Regions from separate parts of the Homo sapiens genome. Here region 2 is reported to be linked to region 1. The links are microRNA targets in miRTarBase. Many come from high-throughput screens and were not tested one by one. Region 1 holds a microRNA gene; the other region holds the end of a gene's coding sequence.

Region 1 (3,525 bases):
GCATATCGGAGTTGTGAATTCTCAAAACACCTCCTGTGTGCATGGATTACAGGAGGGTGAGCCTTGTCATCGTGAATCTTCTGCTGAACAATCCAAGTAGCCCGTGTTTATTGCGCACTTTTGATGTGCCATGAGCTGTGCTGGGAGTACCCTGCTAAATAATGGACAGTGTCTCTCTCCGGGACTTCCTATCTAGTGGAGGTATTAGGTGCCTAGACTTCCCCAGGCCTAGGCAACAGACACAGGTGTGTCAGGAATTGAGCCTTCTCATTCTCTTATGAATACACATGCTCACATTGTGCATGCATGTGCACACACACATGTGTAAGTGTAGAAACATTTCTGTACAAAGCTGAAAGGAAGGAGCCTTATTATCTAAACTTGCCTGCAAGTTTCCTTGCCACACACACTCAGATGCATGCCTGGTGTGCAGGTGCCTGGACTTTGATTTTTGCTTGCCCTCTCCTAGCCTTGCAGCCTAGGCACAAGTGCTGTCTTAGCAGTGCAATGGGCTTGTGCAAGGATACCAGCTTGTGAGCCTTGCCTATGTGTAGGACAGAGCCTGTCCATCCCTTCTCTTTCCTTTGTTCATTCTTTCAGTCAGTCATTTGTGTGTGCATGTTTTTGGTCCATTCATTTATTCATCCCTTTAACAAATTTACTGAATTCCTGCTGTTTGGGAATGCCACAGTAAACTAACCTGTCAGAGATGCCGACCTTACTGTCTAGCAGGCTCATGGAGAATAAGCATCCTCATGTCATCCAACTTCCTGTGAATACATGGGCTCAGGGTGCCAGAAATCAGGCTTTTCTTTATTCCCTCCCACAGACATGGGTACCTGTGCAAATATATGTGGTGTGCACATCCTGAGCCTGCTGCTCTGCTTCCCCTTGTATCCTTGCCACCTAAATGTGCATGCTGTCTCAGTGCAGCACCTATTCCAGGACTCTCAGAGGGGCCTTTTTCTGCCCATAGACAGACAAAGTGCCTGTGAGTCACACTTCCTCCTCCCTCTCCTTCCCCTCTACCTCCCTTTCACAAGTATTGAGCACTTAGTACATGCTAACGCTGTGCTGCCAGGGCAGTGGGCATATGGTATCACACAAGATGGACTTGGTTCTTGCCTCAAAGAATATGTGTAGGAGACTTGACTTTTTGTCACCTAATATTCCTGCACGTGCTGAGTTAGTGTGGGCCACAACATGGGACTTCTTATTGACACCCTCTCCCAACATATACACAATGCAAGACTCTCATTCCTGTTCTCACACAGAGCTGTGTAACAGAGAACCTTCTCTGCTTCGAGCACGGCAGGTGCCCAAGCCTTCTGCCCTGCTCCCCCTCTCTAATCCTTGCTATCTGGGTGCTAGTGCTGGCTCAATGCAATGCACCTGGGCAAGGATTCAGAGAGGGGGAGCTCAACTGTACCAAGAAGGACAGAGAGCCTAGACATCACCCCTCCCACCCTCCCCTGTCATAGTTTTTGAGTGATGGGTGTGTGTTGGGGAAGCACAGAACAGAATAGTTAGGGACTTCAGGTGCTCTGGTGGGCTTGTCTGTGTATTAGAATAAATGTCCTTATTAAATAATGTCCATGTATGCAGGTATCCAGAGTGAGACAGTGAGCTTTCTCTGTGTTCCCCACCTGCTGTCCACACACAGGGTGGTGGGCGGGAACCAGAGCCTTCTGATTTGCTCCCTCACTTCCTTCCAACCTAGATGTGAGTGCTGTCTCAAGTATTAAGCCAAGGATTCAATGAGATGGAGCCTTGCCTACCTATATGTATATATATGGACTGAGTGCATATATGTCTCTTTTCTTGCCTTCCTATATCTTGAGTTTCTAGAGTGTGACAGATACTCTTTTTAGTGTTAAGGATGCAGTGACAAACGAGAGTCAAAATCACTGGATGTGCTCTCTGATGGGCAGCTTTAGAAGAAAAATTCAGACGGGCACAAATGATGGGGGCCAAAGAGAGAGTCTTCCTATTCCCCCCACTCTGTCCCCTCTGAGGACAGGGAGATGCACACATTCATGAAGATTTACACTTACAGAATGTATAGGAGTTTGAGCTTATAAGCTGCCCTTTATCTTCCAGGACATCCTGAGTAGAACTGTGAGCTGCCTTTAGATGTCTATTACAGACTCTTCTTGAATTAGAGGGGGTGAAGAGCAAGGGACCCTTCTTATTGCTGATCTTGTATGCACCCCACACAATATGGAAATGAGAACAGCCTATATCTTTATATTACCTTACTTTAGTCAAATAGAGATGGACTATACATGTCTCTGTTTCAGTCTATCGCTCTCTCTGTCCGTCTCTCCATCTCTCTCTCTCTCTCACCTAGGGAGTACAGGTGCCCATGATCTGATTCACTCCCCTCCTCCCATCCTTAGCGCCTGAGCCTGAGTGCTTTCTACTGTGACCTCAGCAGTATTCTTCAGTTGTTACTCTCTTCTTAGCTAAGCTGATCTATTCATTCCTCCCCATCTTATCATTTTTGCTCATTGCCCATTGCAAATTTATAGTGTTCAGGTCAGCGTAGCAATACAGTATTATAAATAGTGGTGACAGAGACAGAAAGAGACACACACTCCATTTCAGTCCTCAAGTTCTTAAACATTTGGGACTTATAGATTCTGATCCTTGGTCCTTCTTCTCTCCCAGATTCTCCCAATCTAACCTGCAGTAAAGATTCAGGTTATTTAATATGTGCTCCTTATCTTTTGTATACTCTAAAATCTCATTTTGGTTACTGCTCAGCCTTAGTCTTATTTTATCAGACTTTATACCTCTCTTGATGCCCAAGACTAGCAGCATCAGCATCCTCCAGGAACTTGTTAGAAATAAACTCTCAGGCCTCACCTCAGACCTAGGTAATCAGAAAGTCAGGGGTGGGGCCCAGCAATCTGTGTTTTAACAGCCCTCCAGGTGATTCTGATGCACACTGAAGTTTGAGAACCATTGGTTTAAATGACTTAAAATTTCTATTCTGTCATTACTAGGGGGATTTCTGTGTTACACAGGATGATTTTTAGCATCAAAATTTCCTTATGTGTAAATGGCTCTTTTAGTTTCTTTTCATATTTTAAAAATTCATAGACTTTTTTGAGCAGTTTTAGGTTTACAAAAAGATTGAATGGAAAGTATAGAGTTGTTATATATTCTCGAGACACCCCAGTTTCCGCTATTAACATCTTGCATGAGTGTTGTACACTTGTTAAAATTGATGGGCTAATGTTGAGACATTATTATTAAATAATAGTATAATTATAATGTATTATAACTATTATTAAATAATAGTTTAAATATAATTATTAATGTAAACCATAGTTTACATTAGAGTTCCCTCTTTGTGTTATATACTCTATGGGTTTTGACAAGTGTATAATGACATGCATGACCATTATAGTATCATACAGAATAGTTTCACTGCCCTAAAATTCCTCTGAGTTCTGCCTATTTATCCCCCCTCCCCCACCCTAAACCCCTGGCAACCGCTGATCATTTTTCTGTCTCCAT
Region 2 (3,000 bases), not on the chromosome of region 1:
AAAAATTGTTTTCCACAAAACCGGTCCCTGGTACCAAAAAGGTTGGGGACTGCTGACAAGGAGTATGAGTGTGAAAGGTGCAGAGGTCTATGCCAGGAGACAGCCATCCCCAATAGAAGCCCTCAGCTATGCACAAACTGCTTAATGTCATTCAAAGAAAATAATGTCGCCCATTTTGCCTCAGAGCTTTAGCCCCAATCACAGCAACTGCTATTTCCTGACGCTTACGCACCAGAGATGGTGATAAGAGCACTGCACGCATTATCTCAGTAATCCTCATAACAGCCCAATGAGTTGGCATTACTATCCCCAATTTATAGATGAGGAAACAGGCTCAGAGAGGTGAAGTAATCTGACCAGGTTACATAGCTAAGTGGAGTCAGGATCTGAATCCAAGAAGACTGTCTCTACAGCCCATGCTCTCAATAATCCATCCTGGGCTCCTCCAGAACCTGTGGGAAACTCAGAGGATGCCAAATGATAAATTCCTAAAAACCTCACTCCATTATATATGGGAGGAAAGAGAGGACACCTCTGTGAACCTGGAGTGATTCATCCCATCAGGGCACTTAGAGATGCTCCTCTTTGAAAGGGGAAAGAACCATCCCCAGATGTGGGGTGATCCCACATCTGCTGTATGTTTGAAGGTGATAAGCAATGGACAGTTCACCTCTGGAATGCCTGAGGAAAAGAGACCCTCCCCACCATCTCTGAGGGGCAGCCCTATTTCTTGGATACATTAGGGAAACCCTGCCCTAGGATCTGAGGGAAACACAGTCTCCACTCCAGGTGCCTGCTCACTCTCCTGGAGCTTCTGGCCGTCGCACCCTATTGCAGCTCCTGGGTTTGGCTGGGGCACAGGATTAACCATCCCCAGGAAATGCCTCCCTCCGGTCCAGGCAGGGATCCCAGCATACACACCCCTGGTGGTGGCAGTGGGGGAGAAAGGGGGAAGGTGGAATGCTTCCTTCTCTCCAGGTCAGGGAAGAGATCTGGGGACCACCTGGGGGCCCTCGCCCCTCCTGCCTCCTTGCTGGGGAAGTGCCCAGTCCAGTGCCCCCTCCATGGCCACCTCCCTCCCTCTAGCTGTGCCGGGGCATGAATCAGCTCTCACAGCTTGTTAAAGCTAGACCTCTTGTTTTCATGCCCTCACCTCAGGAAACAGAGTTACAACTTTTCCAGCTCTACTCAGCAGGGGGCCAGGGTCCTCACTTTATAAACATCCCCAGCCTGTGAGAGCAGAGGGCAGGGAGATAGTGTGAGACAGGAGCCCAGGGGAGAAAGACAGAAACTAAGACTCAAGGAGCAACGCAAAGCAAAGTCAAGGAGTCAAGACCAGAGTAGCTGAGCAGAGGCCAAGAAGGGTCTGAGAGGGCTGTGCAGCAGCAATGGCCCTAAGGATGCTCTGGGCTGGACAGGCCAAGGGGATCCTAGGAGGCTGGGGGATCATCTGCTTGGTGATGTCTCTACTCCTCCAGCACCCAGGAGTCTACAGCAAGTGCTACTTCCAAGCTCAAGGTAAAGTGGGGTGAAGCGTTAGGAATGGAGGAGCAGCAGAGAGGGCACAGGGAGGATGGGGCCTTACAGATGATCCCGTGTCAAAATACCCAGGCTTCCTCCAGCTGTGAAACAGGAAAGACAAACTAAATACGGGGATAGTGCGTACTTACTGTCTCCACCCCAGACCAGAAGAGCCTCTGCCTCTCATCAGCACTCCTACACCTACTAACATTTCCCGTTCTTCCCTAGCCCCCTGTCACTATGAGGGGAAATATTTTACCCTGGGTGAGTCTTGGCTCCGCAAGGACTGTTTCCATTGCACCTGTCTGCATCCTGTTGGCGTGGGCTGCTGTGACACGTGAGTGACCAAAGATGGCCAGAGAGAATGACTCTGATATGAGTGACTGAGGGATGACCAGGGAGTGACTAGATTGCTGTGATGTAAGAATGAACAGAAGAGCAATACAAGATGGGCCAAACCTGAAGGGACCAACACTAGTGTGAAAGATAAGGCTTCAGGCTATAAATCAGGGGAGGTTGGGGTGGACCTGGAGAGAAAATACTCCTGTTATAAAACAAAAAGGCCCACATATGGTAGGTGACAGCTTAGTTAGGAGGACCAAGGGGCCACTGAAAGGGGCTCTGTGGGGGGAAAACTGTGAGAGAGGGAACATGTGGGCAGGGATAAAGGCAGCCTTTCACTGTGCTGACTCCTTCCCCTATCCTTGGTTCCCCAGGTCCCAGCATCCCATCGACTTCCCGGCTGGGTGTGAGGTACGTCAGGAGGCAGGAACCTGCCAGTTCTCCTTGGTGCAAAAATCTGACCCTCGGCTGCCCTGCAAAGGGGGAGGGCCTGACCCAGAATGGGGCTCAGCCAACACCCCTGTTCCTGGGGCTCCTGCTCCCCACTCCAGCTAAACTCAACTGATCATCCATCTGCTGACTGCTCACTGCTGCTGCCACTTCCAGGGAAACCACTAGCAGCTGCCAATGTATTCTGAACAAATAAATTAATGCTATAGCTGAAAGCCCGACTCTCACTGTCCACGACATTGGACCCCAGGTGGAAAAAGTGGGTCCCATTAGAGTCCAGGTGCTGAGTTCTCAGTATCCGGAAGGAACTAGCACCAGGGTGGGCCAGTTTCAGATGGTTATGGTGCTGGTGCTGGGGCCTGGGGCAGCATATGAGGCCAGGGTGGGGCTAGTAGGCAGCACCTTGATGGGCAGGTCCCAGCTGAAGGTGTCTACAGGTACTTGCTCAGGTCCTGTCCAGGTGGTAGGTTCGGGCTGTTCCACAGGGGGTAGGAGTACCAATCCTGGTTCTCGGGACGTTACAAATTCAAAATGCAATCTCCACTTCAAGGACACTATGGAAGAAAAAGATTAAGGTAGAAGCATCAGAAGCTAGCAGGAGTAAAAGCCAATGACAGGATATAGTTAGTGAATGAGAAGAAAACAATCTGTGTTCAGGAAGACAGGGAAAAGTCACAGGGCAGGGAG

Evidence for each region. Region 1 holds the annotated microRNA hsa-miR-502-5p (AUCCUUGCUAUCUGGGUGCUA, at 1,350-1,370, shown strand). A microRNA usually pairs through its seed, bases 2 to 8, with sites in the 3' UTR of a target mRNA and lowers its output. Matches are read on the target gene's strand: a 7mer-m8 pairs with bases 2 to 8, a 7mer-A1 pairs with bases 2 to 7 and ends in A, and an 8mer does both.
Region 2: miRTarBase lists RGP1 as a target of hsa-miR-502-5p. Seed matches in the 3' UTR shown: 7mer-m8 at 1,028-1,034.

The regions. Positions count from the first base shown.
Region 1 is chrX:50,013,264-50,016,788 of GRCh38, forward strand. MIR502 (microRNA 502) reads left to right here and starts at 1,335; the gene lies at 1,335-1,420. The region is part of intron 3 of CLCN5 (chloride voltage-gated channel 5); the gene reads left to right. It overlaps MIR660 (microRNA 660), which reads left to right; the gene lies at 1-74.
Region 2 is chr9:35,752,518-35,755,517 of GRCh38, reverse strand. RGP1 (RGP1 partner of RAB6A GEF complex) reads right to left here. Exons shown (of 9, transcript NM_001080496.3): 9 at 1-2,867. The coding sequence ends at 2,644. MSMP (microseminoprotein, prostate associated) reads left to right here and starts at 1,242. Exons shown (of 3, transcript NM_001044264.3): 1 at 1,242-1,518; 2 at 1,750-1,858; 3 at 2,238-2,528. The coding sequence starts at 1,389. The coding sequence ends at 2,418. RefSeq lists an enhancer at 1,429-2,628.